Homo sapiens: one gene and its partners. The protein of the gene in region 5 purifies or fractionates together with the protein of the main gene of each other region. This does not show direct contact. Each region holds a gene or a part of one and is shown on either strand. Other genes may lie near its edges.

Region 1 (6,755 bases), on a different chromosome or scaffold from region 5:
AAGGAATGACAGACATAGACAAGTGAAACAGAATAGAGAAATCAGAAATAAATTCACACATTTATGGCGTACTCATTTTTAACAAAGGCACCAAGAACACACATTCGGGAAGGACAATCTCTTCAATAAACTGCTAGGATAACTCAACACCCACATGTGCAGGAATACATCTAGGCCGTTATCTTACCATATACAAAAATCTGCTCAAAATAAAGATTTAAATGTAGGACCTGAAACTATAAAACTACTAGAGAAGAAAACATAGGATAAATGCTTCATGAAACTGGTTAGGACAAGGAATTTTCAAATAGACATCAAAAGCACAAGCAACAAAAGCAAAGATGTAATTACATTAAACTTGTCAAAAGCACAAGCAACAAAAGCAAAGATGTAATTACATAAAACTTAAAAGCTTCTGCAAAGCACAGGAAGAAATCAGTAGAACGAAGAAACAACCCAGAGAATGGAAGAAAGTATTTGCAAACTATGCATCAGCCAAGGGGCTAATACACAAAATATATAAATAACTACTCAAAAGCAAAAATACAAATAATTTGATTAAAAAAAAATCTACCCCAAATCTTTGTCTCCCACCATTATTTTCCCACCTTCTTTTCCCGACCGCCTTTGGCCTCCTCCCCCTCGCCACCCGTTTTCTTCCTCCATCTACCCCAAAACTTTTTCCCCACCATTTTTCCCTACCGTCATTTCGCAAAGCCTTCTCTGCTCTCTCACTCACCACCCTTTTCCCCATCCACTTACCCACTTTCCCCACTGTTTTTTCCCACCGTCTTTTCCCTTTCTCCCTGGCCACCTTCTTTTCCCCCATCCCACTCTCATCACCCTCTTTTGCTCCTTCATCTAAGCAAAAACATTTTCTCCCGTCTTTTCCCAAACCCTTCTCCTCACTCCTGCTGCTCACCACTTTTTCGCCCTTCATCTACCCGAAAACTGTTTTCCTCATCGTCTTTTCCCCCGCTCCTCCTTGCCACCCTCTTTCCCTTCTCTACCCAAAAACATTTCCCCATAGTCTTTTCGCAAAGCCTTCTCCCCACTCCTGCTCACCTCCCCTTTTCCCCCTCCATCCACCCCCCAGAATATTCCCTACTGTCTTTTCACAGTCTTCCCCCCTTCCCACTCGTCCTCTTCTTTGCCCTATCCTGCTTGCCACTCTCTTTTTTGCCTTCCATCTACCCCAAACTATTTTCCCATTTTTTCCCCAACTCTCTTTCCCTGCTCCCTCTCGTCACCCTCTTTCCTCCTCCTCGTTACCCTCTTTCCCCCCACCATCTACCCAAACACTTTTTACCCACTGTCTTTTCTTTCTCCACCGTCTTTCTTTCCTGCCCACTATCTTTTTGCAAAACCTTGTCTTCCTCCCGCTGGCTACCCTTTTCCCTTCCCCCACCTGTTACCCTCTTTTCCCCCTCTATCTACCCAAAACCTTTTCTCCCCACTGTCTTTTCACAAAACCTTCTCTCTCTACTGCTCAACGCTGTTTCTCCCCCCCACCACCCTCTCTTTCCTCCTCCCTTGCCACCCTCTTTTCCTCCTCCATCTACCCATAAACATTTTACCCACCATCTTTCTGCAAAACCTTCCCTCCCTGCCGCTCCCCACCCCGTTTTTCTCCCTCCATCTACCCAAAAACTTTTTTTCCCACTATCTTTTCCCCACCGCCTTTTTGCAACGCGCTCTCCTGCTCACTATCCTCTCTTCCCTTTGGCACTAACCACCCTCTTTACCCCCTCCATCTATCCCAAAACTCTTTTCCTCCTCTTACCGCTTCCGCCGCACTGCCGTCTCGGTCGCGGTTACCACCAGTCGCAGCGAGGCGAGCCACGGTGTAGCGGCTCCAGCCTCCAGCGTACGGCTGGTGATTACCCATTCCTGGTCCTCTAAGCCGGGCACTGAGCAGCTCCACAGGAAAATACGGGAACGTGGAAGAGCCTGACTTCCCTTCAGCAGCAGGCGTATACCGCGGTTATATACAGGAGGATTCCTGACTGCATGTTCTGATTGGATGAGAAAAACCCTCCAGGGTTACTTGGATTGGACTTTATTATCATGTTCTGATTGGATGAGAGCCAGTCTTAAGACAACCAATCACAGCATGAAAATAAAGTCCAATCAGAGTAGGCCTAGAGGTTTTTCTCTCATCCAATCAGAACATGTAGTCTGGGAACCACATGTGCGTAACCTCAGTACGTAAAGCATGCGGAGGTGGCGTCAGGTCATTTCAGGCTCTTAAGTGTGGGCGTTTGGTAACCGGCATGGCTGCTACCTGTTTCTGGCTGGAGCCTCGGACACTGGCTCACTGCAGTTGGTGGTGTCCACAGAGCGGTAGGAGGGCAACTAGTAGCGGGAGCTTCTCCTGCCAGGCAGGAAGACGAGTAGAAGGGAGCAGCACCGACGCATGCTGGAGGCTGGAGCCTGAGCCCCTGGGGCTCGCCTTGCTGTGTTTGGTGGTGACGTGGGACACTGCAGCTCGGCCAGAGTGGTAGAAATGTCCTGGTGTAGGTGAGTTATCCGGGGATGTACTGCCCGCCTGTGGGGGCAGGGGTTGGGTGTCCTATTGGGGCTCACTGCCCGAGGCTGCACTGCCTGTGTCAGGGGGCTGGTTGGGGGCACTCTCCGAGGTTGCATTGCTGGCGGTGGAGGGGGGCGGTTTTGGCTGGCTGTCCGGGGCTACACTGCCCGTGGTGGCGGGGGTGGTGGGGGGGAGGCAGGTTGTGTGCACTAACGTGTACTGCCGGTGGCGGGGGAGGGGTTAGGGGCACTATTTTCTGCTGCACTGCCCGGGGCAGGGAGTGGTTTGGGTGGTTATTTGGAGCTACAATGCTGGCAGCGGGGGGTGGTTTAGGAGTGTTGTCGGGTGCTGCACTGCCCTTACTCAGGGTGCGCTATCAGGAGCTGCGCTACCTGTGGTGGGGTGGGGGCGGCGATTTTGGGGCACTGTCTTGTGCAGCAACACCTGTGGCTGGGTCAGGTTGTGGGCACTATCGGGTGCTACACTGCCTGTGGAAGGGGTGGTTGGGGGGGGGTATTGGGGTTACACTGCCTGCAACTGGCACAGGGTGTGTTGGGTGTGCTGTCCGGGGGCTACACTGCCGGCGGCAGGGGTCAGGTTAGGGTTGCTATGGGGGCTATACTGCCAGTGGTGTTGGTCGGCTGCAGAGGTGGTGGGGACAGCAACAGCCATGGTCTCCTTGCTCCTTCGGGTAACTCTTCTCTTTTCCAGACTCCAGAGTTCCTGCTCGTGCAATCTTGAGCAGGGCAGGGCCCCCACACCCACTGCGGTTCTCCGGCCTGCACCTCCCGCCCACACCCCATGCTCTGTGTTGGGGAGACCACCTGGGACTACCGGGTGGGGATTAGTGGGCATCGCGGGGGACTGTGGGAACAGGGCACTGTGGGTGGAGGTGTCAGGAACGGGAACCAGCAGTTGAGTGGGGAGGGCTGGCTGGGTCTGAGTTTCTCCTACTCCTGCTCCCCAAGGAGTGCAGCCCTGGTGGGCCCAGCAATTTCTGGCCAGTTGCACCTGGATGGGGGTGGTTTCAGCATAGGCACTCACACCCGCCCCAGTTCCTGGCCACCTTTTGCCAGAAAGAGAGGCTGGACTTCGGTGGGTGGGTGTGAGTGCCTTAGCTGAAGCTGGTCCCTGCCACCCAGTGGCCAGCATGACAAGGTGAGGCTCTAACGTTACCACTCCCTGCATCCCATTCTAGGCTTTTCTGGCTTTGCCGGTCTAGCTGCTCCAAGCCAGGCTGGAGGAGGAGGAGAAGGAATCACCTGTGGTACGCTGGAGCCTGCATGTGGCGTGACTCTGCAGCTCGCCTCGTGTGACTGATGGCAGCCACGGAGACTGCAGCTCGACAGGAGTGGTAGGAGGGTGCCCGCGGGGGCAAGGTGGTAGGAACCTTGTAGGGTGGGCTGCTGCATTGACGGCGACAGCAACTGTATTGGCATTGGTGCTAGTGGTGGTAGTGGCAGAAAGTCTGGGGACTGGGAAGGGGGAGTAGGAGCACTGCAGGGCCCAGTCCGACCTGGGGTGGGGAGGAACCTGCTGGTGCTGTACCATGGGCCTCGGTGGCAGTGGTGGAGGTGCACTTAGGGAAAGGAGTCCTCCCCCTTCTCTTGCAATCTCTGGAGGGTGGCCTCCTTCTGAGCCAGGCATGAGTGGCAGCATTGTCTCATTCTTAACAAAATTTAGGGGGTGACTGTGTGTGTGTGTGTGTGTGGCTTTTTTTTTTTTTTTTTTTTTTTTTTTTGAGACAGAGTCTCGCTCTTTTGCCCAGGCTGGAGTGCAGTGGTGCGATCTCGGCTCACTGCAAGCTCTGCTTCCTGGGTTCACCCCATCCTCCTGCCTCAGCCTCCCTAGTAGCTGGGACTACAGGCGCCTGCCACCACGCCCAGCCAATTTTATTTTTGTATTTTTAGTAGAGATGGGGTTTCACAGTGTTGGCCAGGATGGTCTAGATCACCTGACCTCATGATCCGCCCACCTTGGCCTCCCAAAGTGCTAGGATTATAGGCGTGAGCCACCACTCCCGGTCATTTTTTCCTTCTTTTTTGTTGTGATGGTCTTGGACTTTTTCAAATTTTGTGAATTGGGGAGGGGATAAAAGGTGTCATAATAGGCCTTCTAATTCCTGCACCTGTTCTTTTTGCTTTTTCTAGTCTGTGTATTCTTCTCATCTTCTTGTTCCTCTTCATTTTCTTTTGCTGCTGCTTCTATTTCATGTTTCTATTCTTGTTTCTCCTCCTCTTTTTGTTTTCTTTATGCCAAGCAATGGCCTTAACAAACAACAAGCCAAAATTGTCACTGTGTTGTATTTTTAAAATAACTGGTCCTTTACTATGTTTTAGGGATGAGGAAAAAAATCAGTTGTATAATTAGTTACTTGAATAGCTATGCTTTCATGATTGTGTTAAACCACTTATGCCTAGTGTTCCATTATTGGAATGGTAAGCATGAGGGAGTTAATTACATCCTACTGCTCAAGGTCATTAGAAGGTTTGATTTTTCACTCGTGCAAAAATTCAAAAAATTGCAGCCTCTGGCATAAATGGGCTAATGCGTTATAAGTAGTTATTCAGAGAATCAAAAAATGAAGCATCACATAAAAATATTGGTGGCAAACAGCCATTTCATCTCTCTCACATATTTGGAGCTATGCAGGAGTCACGGGGTAAGTTCTAATTTATGAGATTATTAAGTGAACTGTATTGCCTTCATTTTCTCTGCCACCATTTCCTTTGTTTTCTTTCTTTTTTTTTTTGAGATGGAGTTTTGCTCTTGTTGCCCAGGCTGGAGTGCAATGGGGCGATCTCGGCTCACTGCAACCTCCGCTTCCTGGGTTCAAGCAAGTCTCCTGCCTCAGCCTCCCGAGTAACTGGGATTGCAGGCATGTGCCACCATGCCCAGCTAACTTTGTGTTTTTAATAGAGATGGGTTTTCTCTATGTTGGTCAGGCTGGTCTTGAACTCCCGACTTCAAGTGATCCACCTGTCTCAGCTTCCCAAAGTGCTGGGATTGGAGGTGTGAGCCACCACGCCTGGCTCTCTGCCACCATTTTCAAGAGTATTGCCATCTGCCTGAGCAAACCTGGTTCATCACCACCTCTTTGCAAGAGAAAAAGGAAGTCGGGAGAATTGTGTGTAATTTTTTTTTTTTTGAGATGAAGTCTCGCTCTTGTCCCCCAGGCTGTAGTACGATGGCCCGATCTTGGCTCACTGCAACCCCTGCCTCCTGGGTGAAAGCAGTTCTCCTGCCTTGGCCCCCTGAGTAGCTGGGATTATAGGTGCCTGCCACCACGCCCGGCTAATTTTTGTATTTTTAGTAGAGATGGGGTTTCACCATGTTGGCCAGGCTGGCCTAGAACACCTGACCTCAGGTGATCCACCCACCTCGGTCGGCTGTGTGTATTTTAAGGCAAAGATTCACAACCAAAAACAAGGCTTTATTAACTTTTGTATCTAAGAACCTGCAGTGTCGAGCCCTCTTTTATTCCTAGTATTACTACTTTAGGTGTGAACTTTTTATCTTTATTTTACTGATTCCTCTAGAAGTTTATGCATTTTCTTGACTGCTTTAAAGACAATCTATATTGTATCATTTTTCAAGCCCGTAGAAATGTGTAAGGCCTATAATTTGAACACTTGTTATTTTTAAGGTTATGAGCATGTAATATACCATTGATACATGGAAGAATATGTATAAATACCACTAGATAGGTTATATTGAAGAGATAATATCTAAATTTTTGTCCAGAGTTGATGGGGTGCAGTTTTGTAGGTGTGTTTCTCAATACATTGTGTCCATGTTTTAAAGCATATAGAAATTTGAATACTGTTTAACCTCATATAGTCCTTGTTTATAGGTTTAATATTTCTAAAGACTAAAGACGTCACAGCTCCCTTTAAGATTCAGTAATACTAATAAAATTTGAGATATACAGGGTTAGAGTCCAACAAATTCAAAGGAAAATTGTTGAATTATATAGCCGTAGAGCAGGAATGAAACCCAGGTTCTAAGTTCCAAGGGGGCCATGAGCTACCATACAGGTGCATCAGTGACTGGGCATAGAGTTGGCAAAATTATTTAAGAGAGTGAGCTGTGGATCCTAATTATGTGAACATGAATTTTTGAACTGCATGGTGCCTCAGTTTATCCATCATTACAGTGGGGACAGTAGTAAGTTTTTCTTTTTCTGCTCAGTTGTCTGAATTATTACCCCAGTCTCTCTTGTTGC
Region 2 (6,021 bases), on a different chromosome or scaffold from region 5:
AGCCTCCCTGTCGGCCTGGTGTTCTGTGGGATCCCTCTGGGCACTGGTAATCCCAAGATCTGTGCAGCCCCGCCTCCAGGCCACATGGGGCTGGGCAGCTACCATTTCCCTTTTGCGGATGGGAGGGGTAACTTGCACCTCTGACCTATCACTTCCACTGCACCCCGTCTCATTCCTCCACCTGCCGTGGACTTGGGGTCAGAGACTGCTGTGTTTGAGCTCTGCAGCCCAGGGACCGAAAAGTTGGTGTCAATGAATTTTGCTTGGTGGATGAAATGTCAGTGGAAGAAGCAGATGAGAAACTCTTGAGATCTTGGTCCTGTGTTTTTTCTGCCACCAAAGGCCAGGGTCACTGAAGGCCTGGCCCACAGCAGGTGCTGAGCAAAGGGAACAGTGAGGTGCCCAGCTAGCTGCAGAGCCACCCTGTGTTGACACCTCGCCCCTGCTCCCTCCCATCCCTTCCCCCTTTACTCATAGCACTTCCCCCATTGGACACGTGGTGCATTTTGCTTGTTTATTATGTTTTCTCTCCATCAGAATGAAAGCTCCTCGAGGGCAGGGACTTTGGTCTATTGTCTGTATTTGCCGGTGCCTAGGATTGTGCCTGTATGCAACAGGCACTCAATAAATATTTTTGCTGTAGACTGGACAGGCATGAGTTAGATTCTCTGGGGCTTCTGCAGAGACTGGTTTGGGAAAGTGGGTGCTAGGGAAAAGCTCTGCTCCCTGCAACCTCCCCATTTTAATCTTTCAGTATTGAAAAGTGGAGAGGAACCGGATTCAGTCTGCTGGGGACAGAGGCAGTGGGGTGTGGAGGTGCTCAGAGCAGCCTTTGGGAAGGTGTGGGGGAAGCTGGATTCCCAACTGTCAGCCTCCAGGCCTGGGATGGACCTAGGATGCTGAGAAAGGGCATACACTGCTGAGGGAGTCACCTGCCAGTCACCAGCTCACTGAGGAACCAGAAGAATGTACAGTTCTTGGTTTGAAGGCACTTGGAGAAGGAGAGGAAGGAGGGATGGGAGCTGAATCTCTTCCCGCCCCCATCTCTGCCAGGTCCCAGGCCCCCTCTGGGCTTCTGTCCCACACAGACCTGCCTGGAAGCCTTCAAAGGCCGAGGAGCCCCGGTCGGGGTGGGGGTCCCTGTTCTGGAGCCATGGGTTTGGAGTGCCAGCTCCAGCAGAGGCATCTGAGCAGCGGCCTGAGGTGCTGTGTCTGACATGGTTGTTGGCCATGGAAGGCCTCGGGCCGTCCTGAGCTCAGATCTTGGCTGCCGGCTGCTGGGGCGGCTGCTTCTGCAGCAGGGCCAGGGTGTCCCGCTTCTCAATGGAGCGCAGCTGCTTCTTCTTTGCCCGCTTGAGCTTGGCGGGGTTTCGGATCTGGGGGTGGTATGAGGGGAGGACATTAGTGCAGCTGCAGCCTCGGTCCAAATTCCCAGGGGAGAGGAAGGCCGCCCCACAGGGGCCTGAGATCGTAGCATGAGAGTGGGGGTACATGAGGCAGGGGTCGAGGCCCTGGTTTGCACCCCCAAGTGGGGCAGAAGGGCAGAGGGGGAAAACGAGACACTCACCACTTGGACGACCTCTGCCTTCCGCTCATTCTCCAGGCGGCGTTTCAGGTTCTCAGCCCGGCGCTGTTTCTTCTCCTGGAACATGTGGGAGAAGGGGATTTGAGTCGGGGAGCAGAGGCAGCCCTGGTCTCTCAGGCCCCAGAAGAGTGCGAGCGGGCAGAATTCCCAGGAGGAAGGGGAAAGGCCCTCTCTGCCAGGCTCCAGGTTGGTGATGTGTGGGTGGAGGGCTAGCAATCCTGTGCCACGGTCTAGTGCCAGGGGCCTGCTGTGGTGGAAGCTCCTGATAGCATGTTGAGAGGTGGGTATGGGACAGGCAACTGAGGACAGGGGCTGAGACACTGGGGGTGCCCACCTGGAGATTCACGCACATGCAGACAGTGACCCCTCATGCCACCCTCATCAACTGCCAAGGGAGAAAGGGGTGCTGGCCCTTCCCCCATTCCCACCCTCTCCGACAGTCTCCCCCTCTTCCCCTGGAGTCCTGCTGCTGCAGAATGCCAGGCTAGGGGTGAGGGCTGGGTCCCTGAGATTTTCACAGGTGTGGGGCTGGGCAGGGGCTGCACTGCACAGAAAAGGCTCTGGAGCTATCTGGGCTGGGTTTCAATCTGGATCCTGTTATTTCCTAAACAGGAGACCTTAGCTAAGTCTGTGCCTCAGCTTCTTCATCTTTAAAGTGACAGTGACCACAGTATCTACCTCGTAAGATAGTTTTGGGAAATCAATGAGGGAATGCACGTGCAGGACTTGGAGCAGCCCCTAGCTCCTTGGGCACACTGAGACTCTAGATGGAGTCTGTCTTGGGAGGGGAAGCCCAGTGCTCTCTAGCCATGCTGACTGTGTCCCTCAGCAAGGCCAGGGTGGGGACGTCAGCTCCAAGGCTGCTGCATGGTTAGGAGTCTCTGCTGGCTTTGGTGACTTGGGGTAGCAGGGGTGGCCCAGGCCCCTGGGGAGGAAGGAGAAGTGAGCCTTGGCCTCCTGTGGTCAGGGCAGGCCCGGGCTGGGGGCTGGGCAGGAGCACCTCCGCAGTGGACGGTGAGAAGTGAGACGGCAGCTCTGTCTTGCCCAAGAGGGAGCCAGGGCCACACAGGAAAAGAGATAAGGCCTCAGCATATGGTGGCGGACACACTGTTCCTCAGATGTCAGCTGTAAGCTGAGCTGGGGTGACTTAGAGCAGGGGACAGATGACTGAGTGACTGGCCCACCCCTTTTCTCAGTGGCCAGCCTGGGACCACGGACTATGGATGAGTTGTCTGAATCCCGTTCGGCACTCCTCCTACACGCCTGGGTCATTAGAGGAGTGGAGGAGGAATCTCCCACTGACTGCCCTGCCCTGGGGGGCAGGAGCTGACCAATGCCACTCCGCTTTCTCTGCATGCTGCCTGCTGAGTGCCCTCTTCCCCCCGCTTAAAAGTCCCTGGCAGATGTGGGTGAGGCTGTGACCCTTTACAGGGGCTTCCTGGCTCTGGGATGGGTGACAGGGGACAGAAGTGGAGGAAAGGTGCGGGGGCCATCCACGTTGCTGGTGTGTGGGCTGCTTCTTGGAGAATGACAGCAGCCATACCGGGGACATGGAGTTCAAATCTGCAAGCCCTTCCCAACTGAGTACGTCCCAGCAAAGGGCCCTCGACCCCATCTCACTGACTGCCCTACCACCCAGGACTTCCTCCCGGGCTTCTCCCCAAGGCCCGCTTCTGGTCCTCCCCCTCCGTCCCTGTCCCTGAGGCTCTTTCAGCAGCCCAGGCTAAACTGTATGGTCCCCTGGGCCTCCCTGCCCTGTAGTCCCAGATTGCACTTCTGCTTCTGGCCAGGTGCCCTTCCTCCCTCCGGCCTTCAGATTCAAGAACGTTTTTTAACCAAGTCGGCCTCCCCCAGGCACCCGTGGAGGCCCTCGCCTCAGGTCTGTACCAGTAGACACTAGCTTAGTCCTCTGAGCCCCAGCCTCAGCCTGGCTGGCCCCTCACCTGGCGGCGCCTCTCCTTCTCCTCCTCCAGGTGACGGGCAAAGTCCTTGGCCAGCTTCCTCTCCTGTCGTTCCTTCATCTTCCGCTGCCACGATGTGCGCAGGGGCTTGTCCTGAAGCATCTGGGAGAATCTGAAAGGGGGAGAGTGGGTGCATACAGGGTCTGTGGGGCAAGCGCCACCCATGCCCTGTCTCCTCTCGGCCGGAGGCTCTGGACCTTCTTCCCCAGAGCCCAGGCAGAACCACCTCCTTGCTGGCCTGACAGGCGGCCTTCCAGGGCTGCAGAAACTTGGGGCGGGAGGGAACCCTGATCGTGCTGGCTGCCATTTCTCAAGCCTTGGCTACATGCCTCTGAGGTGGGTACTCCTATCCTCTCCACTTACAGAGGAGCAGGCCAAGGCGCGGAGAGGTTAAATAGCTGCCTAAAGATACCTTGTGGCAGTCAGGACTTGAATCCTGTCAGCGACTGCAGAGTCCAGGCTACGCGGCCCCTGCTGTAAAGTTCTGTTGCTTCCGCCAAGTGCATTTGGCCCGGGTGTGAATGCCTCTGGAGGCGGGGCGCTCACCCCCTAGGGAGGTGGCCCATTCCATTTCAGAACAGTGTGAGTGGTTAAAGTTCTGGGTAATGATTCAGGATCTTCCCCGCCAAGACCGGATGCAGTGGTCATGCTTGTAATCCCAGCACTTTGGGAGGCCAAGGTGGGCAGACCACGTGAGTCCAGGAGTTGGAGACCAGCCGGGCAAACATGGCAAAACCTACTAAGCCTACTAAAACCTACTAAAGTTTCTACTAAAAATACAAAAATTAGCTGGGTGTGATGGTGTATGCCTATAGTCCCAGCTACTTGGGAGGCTGAGGTACAACAATTGCTTGAACCTGGGAGGTGGAGGTTGCAGTGAGCCGAGATCGCGCCACTGCACTCCAGCCTGGGTGACAGAGCAAGACTCTGTCTCAAAAAAAAAAAAGAAAAAAGAAAAAAGAAAAAGAATCTCTTCCCCCAGTTGGAGATGAAGTGGGCATCAGGGCTCTCAGGGAAATCTGAAAAGAGCAACGATGATTTTAGAGTTACAGGAGAACTGAGCTCATCTCTGTAAAAATGCATACTACAAGGATTTATGAATGGGATGATATGTCTAGGATGTACTTTAAAATATTTCAGGGAAAAAAAAATGCCAAAGATCAGCCGGGCGCAGTGGCTCACGCCTGTAATCCCAGCACTTTGGGAGGCTGAGGTGGGCCGATCACCTAAGGTCGGGAGTTCGAGACCAGCTTGACCAACATGGAGAAACCCTGTCTCTACTAAAAATACAAAATTAGCTGGGTGTGGTGGCACACACCTGTAATCCCAGCTACTTGGGAGGCTGAGGCAGGAGAATCGCTTGAACCCAGGAGGCGGAGGTTGCGGTGAGCCGAGATTGCTCCATTGCACTCTGGCCTGGGCAACAAGAATGAAACTCCGTCTCAAAACAAAAAAAAAGAAAAAAAGAAAAAAAAGCCAAGTATCAAAGATGAAGCTACACTAGTAAAATGCTGAGCTGTGTTGATGCTGATAATGGGGACTTGAGAGCTTTGCTCTTTCTTTGTATGCTTGAAAATTTCCATTCAAAAAAAGTAAAAACAAAATGCAAAGAAGTCTCTCGGTGGCCTCCACATGCTGAAATTAGGTCTTTCTCTTTTAAAGATTCAAGGCCCATTTTGGTGTCCCTTGGCCCTGCCGACTTCTGGCCCCAGCTCCCTGATTTCCTTCTCCCCTTCCCAAGGCCTTGCCACTGAAGGCCTGGCCTCCTAAGCACTAAGAATGGGGTGCCACATGGACTTCCCCCATAACTGTAAAGCTGGGCTTCCCAAGCTGGGGTACGAGAACCCTGAAGGGACAAGGTGTTGGGAGCCTAGAGACACACAGAACCACAAGACACAGTGCTGCATCTGTGTAGAGCAGGGCTGTCAAACAGAACGTTCTGTGATGGTGGAAACATTCCACATTGACACTGTCCAATAAGGTAGCCACTAGTCATGGGTGGCTGCTGAGCGCTAGAAATGTGGTTGGTGTTGATAGAGAAACTGAATCTTAAATTTTATTTAATTTTAATTAATTTAAATGTACATAGCCACATGTGGCTGGCGGCTAAGGTACTGAGGCAGGGCAGTTCCAGACCATTGGTTCTACCTGGGTATTGAGGAAACTCAGGCCTGGGTTCCAAGTCCAACCTGGGTGACCTGGAGCAAGGTAGCCTCTCTAAGTCTCAGCATCCTGTCCAGTGGAGATGAGAATCATTCCTAACCCAAAGGGTGGTGGGAGATTTAATCGACACACACACGTAATAGGTGCTCCATAAATGCTACTCCTCAGAGAAGGCAGACAGCATGCCCAAGGGCACTATGGAGAAAGTGGCGTTTGGCATGAGCACGAAGACAGGGCTGCAGCCAGGTCTCCCTCACCACATACACTTTCCCAGCTGCGGCTGTCTTCCTCCCTGCAGCAGGAGCTGCTTCC
Region 3 (6,286 bases), on a different chromosome or scaffold from region 5:
TTTACAAAGAACAAGCAACAAGAAAGTAGGGCTATCGGATATTAAAGCAAATTATAAAATAACAGAAATTAACAGCGTGGCAAAAGTGCTGATGAACACTCAGTGGACGCAGGGCAGACCAGGCAAAGTGTGAGCATGACACGTGAGGTTAGATAAACTGGGGTCCTCCTGGGGAAAGAGTCAGAGTCCCTCTCACACTGTTCCTAAAAATCAGTATGTATGAATTAAATACTAAAAACAAAGAGGAATCAAAGGCCAAAAAATACAGCAGGAGCCACTCGACTGGATTAGAAATCAAGGAAATGTTGCACCTCATAGACTGGCAAATTTTTAAATGTTTCATAATATCGAGTGTTCGAGGACGGAGGGAGCTGATGGGTGGGTGTGAACTGGCCCAGCCGCCTTGGAGGACAACTGAGGGTTGGGAAAGTCAAGTGGGACATGTGTGTGGTTCCAACTACCCACCCTCCCGCCCACAGGGCATGGGGAGCCACTGTCCACGGCACGGCTGGGGCACAGGCTGTGTGGTGGAGCATAGAGGCGCTACCTGGGCACTGGGGAGGTATGTGGACAAAACAAAGCAAAGCAAGGGATGGAGAGTGACCGGGGGAGGCCTCCAGGAGTGGGAGGGCCCTGCAACGGGAGGAACAGCAAGGACAAACTTTGCAAGCTTGTCCTCATAAAGGCAAGGTGGGGTGGCGCGTGCAGATCCACAGGGGAAATTTCAACACATATTGGGGAAAAAAAGCAAATTGAGGGAAAAAATCCACACATACAGAAAACATGCATTTCTAAAGATCCTAAGGAATCTACAAAATGACTACCAGACCTAATGCATGATATTAGTAAATTCATAGGATACAAGATTAGTATTTTAAAAAACCAATTGTATTTTAACATACTAGCAGAGAGCTGAGAAAAAACTGCATTTATGACAGCATAAAAAACTATAAAATACTTAGCAATAAGCTTATTATAAGATGTAAGATCTCTACACTAAAACTGAATAACATTGATGATGAAATTTAAATGGTGAGATATACTATGTTCATGAATTTGAAGATCTGCTTTGCTAAGATGGTAATTCTGAACTGATCTATAGATTCAATGAAATCCCAATCATAACCCCACTAGGTTTTTGTTGTTGTTTTTAAAGAAATAGACAAGCTAATGATAATTTATATGGAAATGCCAAGGACTTAGAATATCCAAAACAACCTCAAGACAGACGAACCAACAAAAAGGACTTATGTTATCTGACTTCCAGATTAATCCTAAAGCTATGGTAATCAAGACAGTCTGGTTTTTGCTAAGGTACAACAAATAGATCAATGGAACAGAAGACAGCCTAGAAACAGATCCACACTTATGAGACTTTCTGATTTTTCACAAAGGCAACAAAACAATCCAATAAGGAAAGAAAAGTACTTATAACAAATGGTGCTGGAACAGCTGAATATCCATATTAGGGGGAAAAAAGGAACTTAACCACTAACACCACATAGACAAACAATTCAAGATAGAAAAAAAAAACCAATATGAAAGCTCAAACTATAAAGTTTTTAGAAGAAAACAGGAATAATATCTTCATGACTTGGGATTAGGCAAAGTTTTCTTAAATAGGACACACACACATACATATACACACACACAATAACTAATATAAATTAAACTTCTCAAAATTAAACTCTCGTTTATTTAAAAAAAAAAAAAAAGTTCTCACGCCTGTAATCCGAGCACTTTGGGAGGCCAAGGCGGGCGGATCACGAGGTCAAGAGATCGAGACCATCCTGCTAACACGGTGAAACCCCATCTCTACTAAAAATACAAAAAAATTAGCCGGGCACGGTGGCGGGTGCCTGTAGTCCCGGCTACTCAGAAGGCTGAGGCAGAAGAATCGCTTGAACCCAGGAGGTGTTGCTTGCAGTGAGCCAAGATCGCACCACTGCACTCCAGCCTGGCGACAGAGCAAGACTCTATCTCAAAAAAAAAAAAAAAGAAAGAAAATGAACAGGCAAGTCACAGTCTGGGAAAAACATCTGTAAAACACATATCCAACCAAAGACTGGACTCTAGGACAAAGAACTCTTAGAGCTCAATAATAAAAAGACAAAAAGCCTCATGAAAAATGAATTTCACTGACGCTGAAACACAAATGGACAGTAAGCACATGTAAATGCTCTTTTGGTGGCAACGGAAATGAGTACCACCGTGAGATACCATTTCATGATTACCAGACGGCCGAGGCTGAGGAGACGGCAGGCCATGTGTTGGCAAAGCTGAGGGCCAGGAGAACTCTCACAGGCTCTGGTGGGAGTGTGAGTGTACAACCACTCTAGAAAAGCGTCTGGCAGCTGCTTATAAAACTAAACATACACCTACCCTATGACCCAGCATTCCATTCCTCAGCACTTACCCAAGAGAAACGAAAACATGTCCACAAAAAGACTTGTAAAGAATGTTCAGAGCAGCCTTATTCACAGTAGCTAAAAATGGAAAAAAGCCCAGGTGCCCATCAGCAGGAAAGTGAGTAACAAATGGTGTATTCATACAATGAAATACTTCTCAGCAATCAAAAGGCATGGACTGCTGCTACATGCAGCCTGGATGGGTTTCAAAACCATTACGCTGAGCAAAAGCAGCCAGATGCAGAAAGAGTGCATCCTACATGATTCCATTTATACAGAGTCTAAGGCAAGAAAAGCTCAACTGTGGACGACAAAGGGTGACACAGCAGTTGTTACCTCTGGGGCCAGTGGGAGAGGTAATTGACTGGGGGGGTGCGTGACTGTCGGGGAATGGTGGTGATGGTCCATAACCTGAACAGGATTTCAGCTGCACAGGTGTCTACAACATTTGTCAGCAATCATTGAATGGCACACTTTAGATTTGCATTTCATTTTATGTAAATACAATCTTCAAAAGAAAAAGAAAAAAAAAGAACCATGAACTCTAGCAGAATTATTTGGGGTGGAGTGTACTGATGTCTGCCATTTACTTTGAAACGCATTTTTAAAAACCCATGTTGGTAGATGGACAGAAACTGCTAGATGAACGGTTATGTAATAAAGATTGTAAAATCTGTGTGGTGGGTACAGGGTATTCCCTATAAAATTCTTCCCACTTTCCTAAATAAAATTTTTCATAATAAAATACAAAGTAAAAGTAACTTGGGAAATGTAGCTAAAGCTGTATTTAGAGATAACTTACAGCCTTTCACTCCTGAACAAAACATATACAAACAGATAAGCAGAGTAACTGAAACCCAAAGAAAGCTAAAACGGGAGTGATCAAAATAAAAACAAATAATTTTGAAGACAAAAGAGTAGAATTGGTTATTAAATACATTAATTATTAAATGGAAGAGACAAAACTTCTTAATTTAATCAGAAATGAAGGTGGAGATACAAATAAAGAACGATAAAGAAAACAGAATATTTAATAAGAAGGCAACTAACATATGAAGATTGAGATCTGACTAAATTTGATCATTAACATTATTTAGAGACAAGGACCCACTCTGTCACCCAGGCTGGAGTGCACTAGTGCAATTACGGTTCACTGCAGCCTCAAACTCCTGGGTTGAAGCGATCTTCCTACCTCAGCCTCCTAAGTCGCTAGGACTAGAGGCTCAGAGGCATACACCACCTAATCTGACTAATTTTTACATTTTTTGTAGAGACAAGGTCTCGCTATATTGCCCAGGCTAGTCTGAAACTCCTGGGCGTAGGTGATCCTTCCATCTCAACCTTCCAAAGTGCTGGGATTACAGGCATGAGACACCATCCTCAGACAAATTCGATCATTTTATGAGTGGCCAAAATTGACTCAAGTTGTGAAAAAACAAAAAAAAAGGACCAAGTGCCATGGAATAAAATTTACACATCATCAAAGAATTACAGCCTAGAAAATCAGGGTCCAAATGGCCACAGTCCAGTAGCCCGTCCAAATCCACTTTCACAGCTATGCTAGGAACTGTGAAAAAGAAAATGGAGGAATGAATCATTTCCCTAAGAAATATCCAAAAAGGGATAGAAACCATAAAACTAATAATCACAAAAGAAACTGACAAAGTTTTCTAGGTCCTACCTCTGAAAAACATACATTTTCTTTAAAACCTCCAAGGAAAAAATAAAGCAGATAACATAAAAAAGAAAATATTCCAAATTAATTTCACAAAGTCAGCAGAATCACACTAAAAAGATAACCGAAAAATACAAAATAATTTTGACGAGAAACAATCTTAGAAAAACACTGGCAAATATCCAGCATCACGAAAAATAAGGAGATACTCCAAAACAACCTGAGTGGGAAGTGTGGCTTTCAGCCTGCGGAGACGTGCAGCTGGGAGCACGTGGCAAGGCTGACCTCAGAAAAGAGGGAGCCACAGGCCTGAAAGGGTCTGGGGACACCAGGGGCCCTGCCCACACCCACGCCGCTATGCGCAGACACTGTTTTCACCGCGGGCAAGGCCTGGAAGGATTTCACATACCACTGCAGGCACTTCTGAACCATAAAAACTCCACGAGCACAGGTTACTTCCACAATAAAAAATTTCACGGTGGGGAACAAAAATAGGTAATTTTTACAAACAAGGAGCCGAGAGCAGCAGCTTCCCAAGGCCGTCCTCCAAAGGGAGGCAGCCCAGCTCTGCAGGTGCCCACACGGACGGGGTGGCAGTGCCATCCACAACAGGCCAGACCAGCTTGGCCATGCTGCCAAGTCTTCATGGCCAACCTCTCTGTGCCTCCACTGTCCTTCGGCCCCCACAGCAGCCTCTGAAGTGTCTTGGGTGATCCCCTTGGGCACTCCTCGGGGAGTGTGGCTGATGTAGAAGGCCAGATGTGAGGCTGTAGGAATAGGAGGGCCCACGGGATGGGACTTGGGCCGGCAGCTGCCTCAAGACGCAGGCATGGACTTACTCTGCAACCATTGCTCACGCCTCAGCTTCATTTTCTCCTTCTTGGGCAAAACGGTCTTGGCCTCTGCACCTGAGGAAAGAGAACACGGGAGTGAGCAAAACGTGTCCAGGTGGCACTCCCATGACCTGAGAATGGGCTGGGGCGGGTCCTGACTGCAGAGCTGCCACAGTCACTGCAACTGGTCTGGCCTGTGCCAGCCTCTCAGACTCCCGGCTCTGGACAGCACCAGGGGCACCTGCAGCATGCCTCGGCCCGGCCTCAGGAGGCTCTCTCAGCAGCGTCCCCCCGCAGTGATGGCCTGGCCACTCACCCCAGCCTGCCCCGGAAAGCAGGTGTCCCAACAAGGAGGCCTCCTCCCCACTCATGCCCCGAATGACTGTCAGGGCAGTCATTGCAGTGAAGCCATGCAGGAATGCCCGACGGCTCATGAAGGGGGCCACGAACAGGACAGAGGCCCTTAGGGGGACATCCCCAAGATCCTGTGTGGTCACGTCAGGCCCAGCGACGTACGTGCTCCCTGCCCCCTGCCAGGCCCGACAATGTGCTCGGTGACCAGAGGCTTCATCCCTGGACCCCACAAAGCGGCCCTCTCAGGGAGCCTCCAAAAGTGAACTCCACAGGTGCCCCTGTGCTTGGTCCACGCGGAGCCCAGCCACCTGCCCGGTGGGCGGGGAAAGGAGGCTCATTTGCTGGGGGGACAGGGGCAGGGGTGGGATGAGCCTGCAGGGCCGTGCAGGTGGGGACAGGTGGAGAGGGCACTGGGTGCTGCGTCTCTGACTCCAGTTTGCTCTGAAACAGAGTGGACTCAAGGGCACCCCCATTTCCTCGGCCTTAACTGATTTCCCGAGACGGTTCAGCCTCGGCTGCATTCTCCCCAGAACACATCTCCCAGTATCTCTTTTAATTCATGCAGACCTTCCTGGCTTGTCCAACAAATCCACCATGTCTAATGAAAAACAAAGCAGAAGCAAGCCCTGCCTGGAGAAAGGCAGTCGCTGCGCTCTGCATTTCAGACTTCACTTCAGGAGCCGGTGTGAAACCTCCAAGGCCCAGGGCTCCCGCAGGATTTAATCCCCTCCCACAGCTTCCTGGTGTGCCTGGGTTGACCTACTTTCCTCCATAGCATCCCAACCTCTCCCTCCCGACCACAAAGGGGAGGGGCTGATTTTGCAGCTTTTCTGTAGTTTTGAAATTGTTTCAAAAGAAAAATGAATCTAAGACCAGTGGAAACTGACCCGAACAGTGACCTGTGTTGTGTTGGAATGAAGAAAACGAGGCCTGGGCGCAGGCCAGGTCAGGAACACAGCACAGTGATCCTTCCCGGCTCTGGCCCCAGGGAGCTCCCCAGCCCCATTGCCATGGCA
Region 4 (6,286 bases), about 22 Mb from region 5:
AGGTCAGCAATTAGGTGACAGGAAATTTAATTTTCTCAAGCAAGTGGTATGCTACACTGAAGTTCCAGAAAGTCTTATCTAAATCGTGAAATGATTAATAAGGTAAAACAGTCTTACTGGGGGCCAAAGTAGTCTTTTTCAGTAGTCAAATTTAGCCTTTTCTTTTTCTATTGAAATACTCACTGATTCTATAATTTATTCAGAATGGTTTGTTAAACTTCTTAATTTAAATATTAGTGATTTCCCATTATATTTATCTTTGGAGATACTGTAAAATTACTAGGTTACTTTTGGGATTGTTTAAAGTCTATTTTGGACTAAAAATGTTTTACTAAAGTCTGTAAATTTCCTCTGCAAAACCAATTTTAACTTTGCTCCTTACATTGTTTTTTAAGGTAATGTTTTCTTTTATTGATTTATTCTTTGGTTTAACAACAACTAACAATTTTAAAGAATAAATTTCAATTTTCAAGATAATCAAATTCAGTAAAATGGCCATTCCTGAACTAAAATGTCTACATATCAAACAAAAATAATACATCTTACCTTATAGTCTGCACTTACATTCACTGATTTAAATTTTAACAATAAAAAGTCTAGTGAGAAATCACTCAAATTCCATTATCTTTAAAAATCATGGTGTTATCACTGATTATTATTACTATTTTTGAGATGAGGTGTCGCTCTGTTTCCCAGGCTGGAGTGCAGTGATATGATCACAGCTCACTACAGCCTCGACCTCCTGGCCCAACTGATCCTTCTGCCTCAGCCTCCTAGTTAGCTGGGACTACAGGCATGCACCATCACATCCGACTAATTTCTTAAATTTACTGTGGAGACAGTGTCTCCCTATGTTGCCCAGGTTGGTCTTGAACTCCTGGGCTCAAGCAGTCCTCCCACCTCAGCCTCCCAGAGTGTTGGGCTTATAGGTGTGAGCCACCATGCCCGGCCTAGCATTATTTAAAAACTTTTAAGAATTGTGGTAAAAACCACGTAATATAAAATTTACCATGTAAACCATTTTTTAGAGTATATAGTTCAGTATTTTTAATTATATTCATATTGTTGTGCAAAAGATCGCTAGAACTTTTTCATCTTGCAAAAATAAAACTCTATATCCAATGAACAACTTCCTTTGTCCTCCTCTTCCTAGCTCTGGCAACAAAGGTTCTACTTTCTGTTTCTATGATACCCAAATAAAATAAGTGGAATCACACAGTTCTTGTCTTTTTGTAACTTGCTTATTTCATTTAGCATAACGCCCTTGTTCCCCAAATTTTAAGATTAATTTTCCAAAGTAAAAATATCTTTTTAAAGATAAAAAAGATTAAAATATATAGAAAGATATTCAGAAATATCTTTCTGACTATGGTATTGTAAAGTTCACATAATGGTATACAAAGTTCCTGTGTAATTCCTCATCCCTCCATTCTCTAGATAACCACTGTTATCTAACCAACCTTTTCTGGACACATAATATCTATGTGAATATAGAAAATATTGATCTATGCACATACATTGCACCTTATTTATTTATCTACATCCATTCTTCCTTTTTCTCATGGTATAGCAGTTACTAGGTTTAGGTGAGATGACACATGGCCCATGTTGGTAGCAAAATGGCTGCAACAGTTCAGTGATAGGCCCTGTCTATCCTAAGCCAACTATAATCCTATCCCTATGAGGTACATCAGCCTGAGGATGAAGCTGACACAAAGGACTGCAGAATATAACTGGAGTACAATACATTTTCTTTGTTTAATCCAGTTTGACTTAGGTTTCATATTGTTATTTATATTTGTTATATTTATTTATATGTTATTCATTACTTTAAAAGAACTCTAAACAATCTAAAGTAAACAAAAACTACTTAAATTGAAAATAAAAAAACTTTTCGTCTTAGAAACAATGTTCCTCTTCATCTTAACGTATCTCATATGATTTTAACAGTAAAACTTAAAATACAGTATACATCAATATGCTTCAAAATTACAACTTTAAAAGCCAGACAATCTCCCTTCCACTCCAGCCTGGTGGGGGCTGGAGTCTGCGTGATAAGGCAATGAGAGGTGTCAGATGGGGATGGTTTACTAATTTCCTCCCCTCTTGTTTAATAAAGAAGGGACATAGGTAAATTGGGGAGTTCTGATAACTGATAACCAAAAAATTTAGGTAACAGTTAAAGCTTTAGGCCTGCAAATAATTTAACCTCAGAACCAATTCACTCCTCATTGTCTGGCCACCTAAAGATAAAATAAAATTGTGGGGTCAAAATAGGCAAACTTGGCCCTAAAATAATGTTCACCGTCACCTAGCACAGGTAACCAACTTTTGTTCACATTACTGTAGATCCTTGCTGACTAAAAAGAAATGTAATAGCTCTATTAAGGAACTTCAACTCAAAATGAAGAAAATAATATTAATATGACCAGAATGCTATTTCATGCTAGACAGTGCCAGGTTTAGACTCGTGTTGTTCAGCTCTATCCTCATATGAACAGAAATATTTTGAATATTTTTTAGCTTTCTACACAGCCAAACAATCAGGAAGGGGGTCGGGGGAACTTTCAACCCTTGCTGGCTGTGCAGCCTTGTCATTCAAACTTGCTTTAGGTCCTTCATCAGTACTGAGAGGAAAAAAATGTCTTTTAGATTCTCAACATAAAAATCTGTTGGAGACTCTAAATTTCTAAATATATGTAAAAGAAAGTTAAAAGATGCCTATATTCTCCAGAACATAACTTTGAAATAAAATCTACAGAAATAAAATCTGAGCCTACTACTTCTGGATTTCCACTACTTCTGATTATCCTTTAGATATTTTCCTTTGGCCAAGGGTACTATTTCTTTTTTTGCTTTTTCTTTTAACTCCGAAGGTTAAATGACATACATTAAATTACATCCACTTAGAGTGTACAATTTGGTGAGTTTTGGCAGTTCTGTATATCCATAAAACCACTGCTAGGATCAAGACTCAGAACATTTTCATCACCTCCAAAACATTATTTTGTGACCCTTCCCAGTCCTTTTAATCCTGATCCCCAGGCAAACACTGATATTGCATACCCAGCATGTAGGTAGAGTATGCAATAACTGCTTTGCATGAATAAACATAATAAAACGCAATTTAAAAGTAATTATTAAAAAATATGAATACTTCTCAATACAAAAAGTAATGGTATTTACCTGAGTTTCTTTCTTATTGGATCCCTCTTCTGTGTCTGATTGTTGTTCTTGTTCATTTTCATCACTCTAAAAACAGATTGCCAATTTATATTTTAGGAAATTTTAGTAATAATTTCAAAATTTATTTTTTAAAATTATTTTTGGGAGTCCTTCTCTCTCAGAATATACATTGAGACATTTGTAGATAGAATGAGATGTCTAGGATTTTCTTCTAAATAATATGGGAGTTGGGAGATGGAGTGGGAATTTAGCTGAAAAAATGAATACTGGGGGTAGGGCTCATTATACTATTATGTTACTTCTATAAAGTATATGTTTAACTTTTCTATATTAAAAATCAAAAGAAAAATAGAAAACTATTTTCCGATTTCCCCATCTGTTCTTCCCTTCTTTGTCATTTATGTATGATTTTCCCTCTCTTTTTAAACTTTTTTAAATAGACATATGCACTCTTGATTCATCAAGTTGAATATATATTTTGTCCACAGCATGGACAATGCGAAGATACTAAAACTCTTCAACTCCATTTAATACTTTCCCATATTTTTGTGCTATTGTTTTCATATGCCTTAGCTCTTTATATATTTTAAACTGCAAATGACAATGTTATTTGTTTCATGTAATTAAGTAATTAGTAATTAAGTAAAATTAAAATGGACTGAAACACTGCAATTAAAAAAAAGTTCAGAAAAAAGTTGACCTAAATATGTTGTTTATTAAAAAAAACACAAATAAATTGAAAATAACAGAAAAGATATATTATACAAAGATAATCAAAAGGAAGCTTTTCAAAAAAGCAGAATTTAAGGTCAGATATAATATTAGAGATAAAGAGGAACATATAGTGAGAGATGGGTCAGTTTAACAGGAAGACAGATGATTCCATGTTCTTTCAGTGAAAGAATAGTTAGAAATTTTCTTTAAAAAATATTTTTATAACAATAGAAGTAAATGTACTGCTACATAAAATAGCATAGATATATCTTATAAACATAACAGTTATAAAATTTATAGTTCTAGTCATATGCTCTTCAAAAACAGGCATAGTTAACTACGGTGTTAGAAATCAGGATACTAGCTGACTTTGAAAATGAGGATGATAGGGATTGAGAGGGAGAACATGGGGGCAATCTACACTGCTGTTTTTATTCATCATTCTGAGTGGTGATTACATAGATATGCTCCTATTGTGCTAATCCATTAAGCTATACATGTATGAATTATGTTTCTAAACATGCCATACTTCAATAAAAGGTTTATTTTTTAGAAAATGGAAACAAAATCAATGAATAGCAATGTCAGGCCTACAATCAAGGACCAGGAAAACACTAATTTTTACAAGACTGTTGTAATTTGATAAGCAAAGCACTGTGTCTATTTAGCATGCTTTGAGATGGAAGTAATCTGTAATGTAGATCTTATAATGATATTTATGAAAATGAAATTAAATAGACTCCTTAGAAATTCTTAAAAGATGTTTTTACAAGAAGCAGTTTACCTATTATAAAATAATCAATACATGCACTCTGAGCTTCAGACATTATTATTTCTATTCCATAATTAGGTCAGAACCACTCCTTTTAAGTAGTACCAACAATCTAAGTAGTTAACTATCCTTAAAAATAATTTTTCTTATTTAACAACTCAGAAAACACAGTGATGATTTAAGGAATATGAAATCTAAGGCATATAAGAAATTATTAGTATGTATTTTTGGACACATTAAGAATACTATCAAGAATACTATCAAATAATGTATTTTAATAGGTTCTCACATCTTGTGTCCAAAATGAAACTCCTGTAGATCTTCTTTTCTCTCTTGGTCGTCGTCGTTCTCTGATTGATTTAGGTTGTGATTTATCTTCTCCTTCTTTCTCCTCTTCTCTTTTTTCTCCCTCTGTTAAGGATTGCAATGAACCACAATATAGCAATATATCTTGACAATATTTTGCAAGGTAATTGTAAAAACAATGGGTAAAATGGGCCAGGGGACTATCTAGGGGGATGGAAGGTAGGCAGCTGCTACTACTTAGCTCCAGCCAATTGTTGGTATGTGAGAATTCAGATCCAGTGTTGCCAGGTCAGCCAACTTTTCAAGAAATGGCAAAAATCTGAAGTTTGAAGTGAGTATCTCTAATTTTAAATGTTGGTTCAACATTTTTACAAACACAATGCAGGCCTCACACATAGAAGTTTAAAGAACTGAAACATCTCAATGATCAACATGAGAAAATATATAGCTGGAAATTGGGAAAAAACTTTATTTTCTGCTGTTTATTCTACATTACTACTGATATTATCATGACTAATACTGTAAGATTTAGGCTTTAAAATATGAAATGCCTATATTTAGTACTTATATCTGATTTAAAGTAGGAATTACTCAGAATTTAAATAGAAAGTTTATATAAAATAATAGGAAATGGTAATGAGTATCAATATGCCAATATATAGTTGAGAAAGAAATGTATTTTTTAAGAAATAAGCATAAAAATGTGTTTTAGTGAGAGCATTACATGTAGTTAGTAATTTTAGTTTACAACAATTTCACAAAAAAACATTTAAATGATATGATCTACACAGTAGGCAAGAAATAGCTTAAAGCATCTGAGAAGTACTACACTAGTAAACTGCTTCTAGAAATAGTCACCCACCAGTTCGATATTAACTTTTCGTTGTAGGTGGACATGAAGATTTTTGTGAAGTATTAGGTTATAAAAATATTAGTATCAACAGCAGGCCATATTCTATTTCTGTTTTCTACTTTTCTCATTCTCAACCTTCATATTCTTTCTGTTTAGGTTCGATGAATCACAAGTTAGGATGCTGTTCCTTTACTGTTGAATTATTATTTAGGAAACCCTAATCCAAAGGATTATATGAAGAAAGCAAAGTGTTTTCAAAATTTGGTATTCTTACCTCTTTCATTTTCTTTTGTTATTCCTCTGGAGTAAGCAGAAGTTATGCCTACAAGACTATTTGGCCTGTTTAGTTGACTTGAAGCATACAGTGAACTGCTCATAGTAGAAAGTGAAGAGGATGGAGTGGTTGAACTTGAAGTTGATACTGGCCTATAACGCTGGTAAGTCTGTGAAACATT
Region 5 (6,097 bases):
GAGTTTGAGACCAGCCTGACCAACATGGTGAAACCCTGTCTTTACTAAAATATACAAAAATTAGCTGGTTATGGTGGCAGGTGCCTGTAATTCCAGCTACTCAGGAGGCTGAAGCAGGATAATCGCTTGAACCCAGGAGGTGGAGGTTGCAGTAAGCCGAGATGGAGCCACTGCATTCAAGCCTGGGCGACAGAGCAAGACTCCATCTCAAAAAGAACAAAAAACAAACAAACAAAAAACAAATGCTGTTCACAAAGTAGGCATTCAAAAGCACATATGTGGTCAAACTAAGTTCAAAGGGGTCAGCCACCCCGCTCATGTGTCCCTATGGTTCCTAAAGAAATATAAAGGTTCTAACTCCAGAATCCTGCTGTTTGCCATGATCCTCCACCCCCATTCACAAGAATCTTCGGCACCCCTCCCCATGATCCTCTGGTCCCCCAGTCCACGACCCCAAAGCCCGGGGGGTGGGGTGCAGTGAGGGTGGGTCTCCCTTCTTCAGTTCCTCCTATTGTTCCGCAGAAGTCTTATCTGGGCGCTACATCCTGTACCCCCCTTAGGAATCCCTCCCTATTATCGGCTAAAGGGACCTCGGGCCCACAGGGAGGCTCCAGGTCTCCTCCTCACCCTCCCACCCCAGCAGTCTATTGTCTGTTGAGGAAGCCCAAGTGCACGTGACTGAGCCCAAGGGACGAATGGATACAGTGGACTCGGAGATGCATTAAGGACCCAGGACAGGGCATCTGGACATGGCTGTGTGAATGTTTGGCTCGCTCTGTTCCAGCGGCTCTCCCAGAAGTTGGGAGGGGTGAAGATCCCCTTGGGCTGTCCGCTCTTGGGTCCATGGCTTGAAGAAGAATCCCCTTCTGCTCACTATGAACATGGCTTATGACCTCGCAGAGAGCAAAGATAAGGAGACCCAGAGCCAGGAAAAGGTCTCAGCCCCCAGGATCCTCTCCACCTTCCCATCCTCCCTCAGCTGAACATGGTAGCCTCAGAAGGAAAGGTACATTGGCATTTTGTGCTTTCGTATCTGGGTGTTGGGGGAATGGTGAGAAGTCACACTGCATTGGGCTTTCTGGTGGGGTCTAGACCAGAGGGTGGGTAGGGAAAAAGAAGGGCTGGGTAAAGAGGATACATCAAGAATCTAGGGCTGGCCAGATGCAACGGCTCATGGCTGCAATCCCAGCACTTTGGGAGGGCAAGACTGGTGGATCACTTGAGCCCAGGAGTTCAAGACCCTGGGCTACATAGTGAGACCCTAACTCTACAAAAAAAAAAAGGGAAGAAGAAGAATCTAAGGGCTTTCCAGTGGTTCCATGCCTCAGTCTTTGTCCCTCAACTGCTGCAACTGCAGTTGAGGGACAAAGATAGCAACATCTTTTATCTTACACCCTGTCCCCTTCTCCTTTCACCAGACCCCCTCCTCCAATGGCTGGGGCCAACCGATCTCTTCCATATCACTTCACCCCACCTACCCCCACTACAGCCTCCCCTTCCCTCTGCCAAGACAGCAGCCTCGGTGATATAACAAAACCTTTATTCTCAGAAAACAGGAAAAACAAAATTAAAAAACAAAACCAATAATTTCTATCTGGCCCCTGCCCCAGCCCTCCCACCCACCCACATATCCTCCTTTTGGGGGGACCATGATGCATGCATAGGGATGGGAGCTGAAGGAAACTGTGTTCCTTGGGCAGAAAAAAGTCCTTGGGTCTAGGTGTTCTCCTCCAAGTTGATATCCCTCCCAGCCTTGCCCACCCTCCAGACACACCAAGAAGGAGGAATTCTGGAGCAGTGCCAGAAGGACTGCCCTGAAGCTCCTTGGGGAATAGGCGGCTGAGTCAGCACCACCCCCATGGTTTTCACCAGTTACAGCTCATCTTCATCCAGCTTGGCAAGTCTGGCTTGGCAGGGAGGGGTTTTTGGAGTTGGAGAGACTGGAGGAGAGTCATGGGGAGCCTGGGGGATGTCACCAAGGGCCTGAAGAAAAGATTCAAGTCAGAGGATCAAAAAGGCCAGAAATCTACCCTCACTTCTCTCTTTTCAGTTTAAGTCCCTAGCCAAGCCACCTCCTCTTGCTAGATATCTTAGACTGTCTGAGACTATCAGCTTCTCCAGAGTTAAAATAGAGGGGAGAAGCGTAAGGGATGGGAAGTAGGAAGGACCAGATAAAAGGAAGGAATGATATGGGGAGGGAACTTGGGGTCCCAGAACAAGAGAGGCTCTCCCCTTTTTATCCCTACAATGAGGGAGCTCTATTCGTCATACCTGTTTATCCAGTGGCAAGAGGGCTCTGGCCACCTCCCCTTTGGGTGACAGCAGCAGAGAGGGGAGAGAGCCATTGATGGGTGTGTGTGTGCTGCCCTGGGCCTGATCTCCAAGCTGAATTCTTCCAGGGCTCCCCACTCCAGGCCCTCTTGGCCGCCCCAGGCTGTTGGTCTGGCTCTCCCGTCTCTGGTACTCAATGGGTGACTGCAATGCTGGAGCAAAGAGAGGAACAGAAGGAGGGTTACCGCAGAGACAGGTCTGCTCCCTAGGGCCTGTATCATTCTCCCACTTTGCCCTCCCTCCCTGTCAGCCAATGTCAATTGCTTAGGGCTTTAGGGGATTCTATCAAATTTTGAGCTAGCAGTGGAAAAGGGGATGGGCCATGGTCAGAGGGTAGGTACTGGAGACTGGGCAGTGAGGGATTCAGGAGGTTAAGGGGCTGAGAGAGCACATCGGGAAGAAAGGATGAGAGCTTCACCGTTGAGGAAGTCCCGTTGGCTCTCCAAGATCTGAGCCACATGCTTGATCCAGGCCTGACTGATAGCAGGGTCTGCAGCCTGCAGGACATAGCGCTGGATCCCACCCTCTGGCCCTCTGGAGGTCAGTGCAAAGCGGCAAGGGTCACCTTGGAGGTTCCCCTCCAGTCCCAGGCAGCTCACCTGAATTGGCAGATAGGAGACAGCCCCCAGATTCCTCAGGCCCTCCCTGGCTCCTCTGAGACATCCTCTCAGAGGCCTCATGCCCTCTCTCTCTCCAAGCCCTCCCTCGTGGCCTTCTCCCCACCTTAATGCTGTTCTTGTATACATATCCAGGCTGTGTTCCACCTCTCACTCCTCCTCCCAGGGCTTCACTGAAGATGATGATTTGCTCAAAGAGGAAGACGCGCCTCTCTCGACCTCGGGAAGACAGCAGCCCTCCAGCCTCAGGCTCGGTGACCCAGAAAGTGTCCTGGCCCAAGAGCTTCCCCTGAGCAGTCAGTTTGCCCTGAAACCAAAAGGATAGTGGCCTTGGAAAAAGAACAAGAAAAAGGACAATTCTCTGCTCCTCCCTTCCTCGCCTGACATGCCCAACCAACCATGGGGTCAGCCCCAGGAGAAGACAACTCCCCATAAGGACCTCCTGAATGCTAGGGCTGGGGCAGAAGAGCATCGGGCCTCCAGTTTCTTGCCCTATCTCCGTACCTCAAATCCCCGCAATCTCCCCAGCGTCATCATATCGTTGCAGCGCTTGGGCACAAAGCACATGACCTCCACAGCTTGCTGGGACACAGGTGAGGGAGGCGCATTGTTGGGCGAAGAGAGTCATTATTGGGAAAGAGGCCTCCTCGGCCAGTTGCCTCTTCAGACGGTATCTCAACCCCAACCAGCCTCCCCCTAAAAACCAGACAGCTGTAAACCACCCAAGGGGCTGGGGGAACCCATGAGATACTAGGAGGATAAGGAGCACATGGTGTGTCCTGGAAGATCTGGGGTCCTCACCTCTAGGTCTGCAGTATCCATCCCAGCTCTATTGTAATACTTGAGAAAATCCTAAGACAGAGAGAAGAAATGCTCAGGGAGGTCACGAGGACACCCTTAGAAGCTCTCACATCCTCCCCTGAGGACACCAGTGAGGGCCCTCAGGAAGTCTGGGGGAGCCCTAAGAACCCTGGGGAGATGAATGAGGAAACAGCTGTGCCAGCCAGCTGTGCCCCCAGGAAAAAGGGGGTCCTGACCTTGAGCAGCAGCTGGTATTTCATGATCCGCTGCACAGGTTTGATGAGGAGGTCGTTCAGCTGCAGGCGGTGCCCCAGCTGCTGCCGGAGCTCCTGGGGACAGGGACAGGGTGGTTATGCAGCCTGGAAAGCCCCAGTTCTGTCCTCCTTCCCACCAAGACATCTCAGCTACTGACCTCAAAGTAGCTGTCCCCAAACTCTGACACCACATGCTCTGACTTGGGCTTATTCTGACAGTACACCACATACATATGCAGCCGGCGCTCCTAACAGGGGTAATGTTTAAGAGAGAGCAGGGTGGGCAAGGAGGGAGGACGCATCTCCAGAGAATCCCAGCCCATTCCTAAGCCCCGCCCCAGGCCCTGCCCCCTCAAGCCTCACGTGTTTGATGAATAGCTGAGCCAGCCAATCAGGATCTTTCAGACACCGTTGTAGCTCTTGCAAGAAATAGCTGGAGGGGTTGGTAGAGAAGCAGCAGGTCAAATACATTTCACAACCCCCACCTCGCCCACTCCCAGCAGTTTCGAGCTGTCTGCCCTGGTAGTGTGCCCTACAAAACTTCTCCAAACATTCCTTAAGTCGCAATGGGCTGATGTTAGGATACAGGACAACCAGATGAGGGCCCCTCTCCAGCACCTAGCTGTCAGAGTTCCACCACTCACTCTCGGTGCCACTCATAGATTTGCTGGATATTCCCAAACACAATCCTGTCACGGCCTCGAAGACTCTCGGGGACCCCCTGAGCAGCCATGGTGGCCATATAACCCTGTGGGAAAGTTGAGGTTGGGTCATGAGCATGTGGTGGCCCTCTCCCCACCTTAATGGTGCTCCTGTACACAAATCCAGGGTGTGTTCCACCTCCCCCTCCCTGGTGGGAGCCGCCCTGCCCCCAGAGTAGGAAGGTCCAGGAGTGGGGAGGCTTGAGAGGTGGGACAGAGGAGCGCCCAGGCACCTCCTGAAAATAGCCCTGGGCAGATGGAAAAGCAGGCAGGAGGGGCTGGGAAGGGGTAAAGGGAGCTACCTCCACAATCTGCCCCAAGTCGTCCACGTACATTTTCTCTGTTTCTACCAGTTCACTCAGGACATACCTAGGATGAAAGCAGGAGGAGGCCCCCACTTCAGCGTCGGAGCTCATCCTTGGTTCAGCCCGTTCCTCCCTCCTCCCCTTTATCATCATAGCCAACCTTGGAGGAAATTCCATCTAAAATGTGAGGGACAGTCTTCTGGAAGTTGTGCAACTGCAGGGAAGGGCTGTGGACACTTACATACTCCTTTCCAGAGCCTTCTTCTTCTGTTCCTCCTCACTCTCAGGGGCTTGGGACAAAGTCTCCTCTTCAGGTGGCTGGAAGGAAAGAACATCCTAGGGTGAGCAAACGAATGCCCCTTGAGTGAAAGGAGCCTCCCCAGAGCCTGTCCTCACACCTGCGTCTTATCTCCAGGGCCCTCCAACAGTGTGGTCAGCAAGGTCAGTTCCGGCAGCTCCTCTCCTGTGGCTAGAGCTGGCTCCAACATCCAGTTCTGGGGGCCAGAAATCAAGTGTCAGAGGTCGGGGACAGTAGCTGGGTGGCCCCAACTTGCCCTCTCTGCCAGTGTCCTTCATAGATGTCCCACATGCTTTGGTGCCGTTCCCTGCTCACCTCATATGGTCCTGCCTGACCACTGTCTGCCTCAGTTTCCACACTGAGACAATGTTTGGAATGATCCAACCATCTCCTCAGGCCACTGACGGGCCCTGGGGGGCCTGGGGAACAGGGGCCAGAGCTGAGGCCAGAGCTGGGGCCAGAGGGGGCAGCCAGACCGGAGGCAGCAGAAGCCGATATACTCCCCTCACTGCCCGCAATGGAATAGGATTCTAATGGGAGGAAAAAGAGAGGAGGTGATAGACCTTGCCCCAGCTCCAGACTCAGGGTCCCCAGGGAACTCCCAGGGTCTTCTCTTCATGATGCTCAGCCTCTCTCTCCAAGGGCTCACTCTCTTGCCATCCTCATTTGAGTTGGCCAGGATAGAAAATTTCACCAGGGCACCCCTGGGAGAAAGCACAGTAAGGTAAACGCCTGGCTCTCCAGGCCTGGAACCCCCAGTTACATGTGGAGGTTCCCCATATCCTGAGCA

What was found.
Region 1: the proteins of ARHGEF25 (region 5) and POTEE purify together in Homo sapiens (affinity purification with mass spectrometry, with the first as the bait; one large-scale study listed by BioGRID). This does not show direct contact.
Region 2: the proteins of ARHGEF25 (region 5) and CCDC86 purify together in Homo sapiens (affinity purification with mass spectrometry, with the first as the bait; one large-scale study listed by BioGRID). This does not show direct contact.
Region 3: the proteins of ARHGEF25 (region 5) and SLX9 purify together in Homo sapiens (affinity purification with mass spectrometry; one large-scale study listed by BioGRID and IntAct). This does not show direct contact.
Region 4: the proteins of ARHGEF25 (region 5) and PPP1R12A purify together in Homo sapiens (affinity purification with mass spectrometry, with the first as the bait; one large-scale study listed by BioGRID). This does not show direct contact.

Annotation. Positions count from the first base shown.
Region 1 is NC_000002.12:131,207,300-131,214,054, forward strand, and holds the start of POTEE (POTE ankyrin domain family member E), read left to right. Parts: upstream 1-2,236; 5' UTR 2,237-2,520; intron 2,521-3,728; 5' UTR 3,729-3,884; intron 3,885-6,755.
Region 2 is NC_000011.10:60,845,561-60,851,581, reverse strand, and holds the end of CCDC86 (coiled-coil domain-containing protein 86), read right to left. Parts: intron 3,659-6,021; coding exon 3,529-3,658; intron 1,643-3,528; coding exon 1,568-1,642; intron 1,377-1,567; coding exon 1,257-1,376; 3' UTR 501-1,256; downstream 1-500.
Region 3 is NC_000021.9:44,958,805-44,965,090, reverse strand, and holds part of SLX9 (ribosome biogenesis protein SLX9 homolog), read right to left. Parts: exon of another isoform or gene 6,158-6,286; intron 4,992-6,157; coding exon 4,923-4,991; intron 1-4,922. UniProt on the Homo sapiens protein: May be involved in ribosome biogenesis.
Region 4 is NC_000012.12:79,790,677-79,796,962, forward strand, and holds part of PPP1R12A (protein phosphatase 1 regulatory subunit 12A), read right to left. Parts: intron 6,275-6,286; coding exon 6,106-6,274; intron 5,084-6,105; coding exon 4,962-5,083; intron 3,253-4,961; coding exon 3,187-3,252; intron 1-3,186. UniProt on the Homo sapiens protein: Key regulator of protein phosphatase 1C (PPP1C). Mediates binding to myosin. As part of the PPP1C complex, involved in dephosphorylation of PLK1. Capable of inhibiting HIF1AN-dependent suppression of HIF1A activity.
Region 5 is NC_000012.12:57,612,670-57,618,766, reverse strand, and holds the end of ARHGEF25 (rho guanine nucleotide exchange factor 25), read right to left. Parts: intron 6,012-6,097; exon of another isoform or gene 5,871-6,011; intron 5,838-5,870; coding exon 5,623-5,837; intron 5,504-5,622; coding exon 5,408-5,503; intron 5,328-5,407; coding exon 5,251-5,327; intron 5,074-5,250; coding exon 5,007-5,073; intron 4,752-5,006; coding exon 4,648-4,751; intron 4,437-4,647; coding exon 4,367-4,436; intron 4,252-4,366; coding exon 4,162-4,251; intron 4,079-4,161; coding exon 3,986-4,078; intron 3,801-3,985; coding exon 3,750-3,800; intron 3,531-3,749; coding exon 3,453-3,530; intron 3,256-3,452; coding exon 3,055-3,255; intron 2,931-3,054; coding exon 2,750-2,930; intron 2,484-2,749; coding exon 2,272-2,483; intron 1,984-2,271; coding exon 1,873-1,983; 3' UTR 1,522-1,872; downstream 1-1,521. UniProt on the Homo sapiens protein: May play a role in actin cytoskeleton reorganization in different tissues since its activation induces formation of actin stress fibers. It works as a guanine nucleotide exchange factor for Rho family of small GTPases.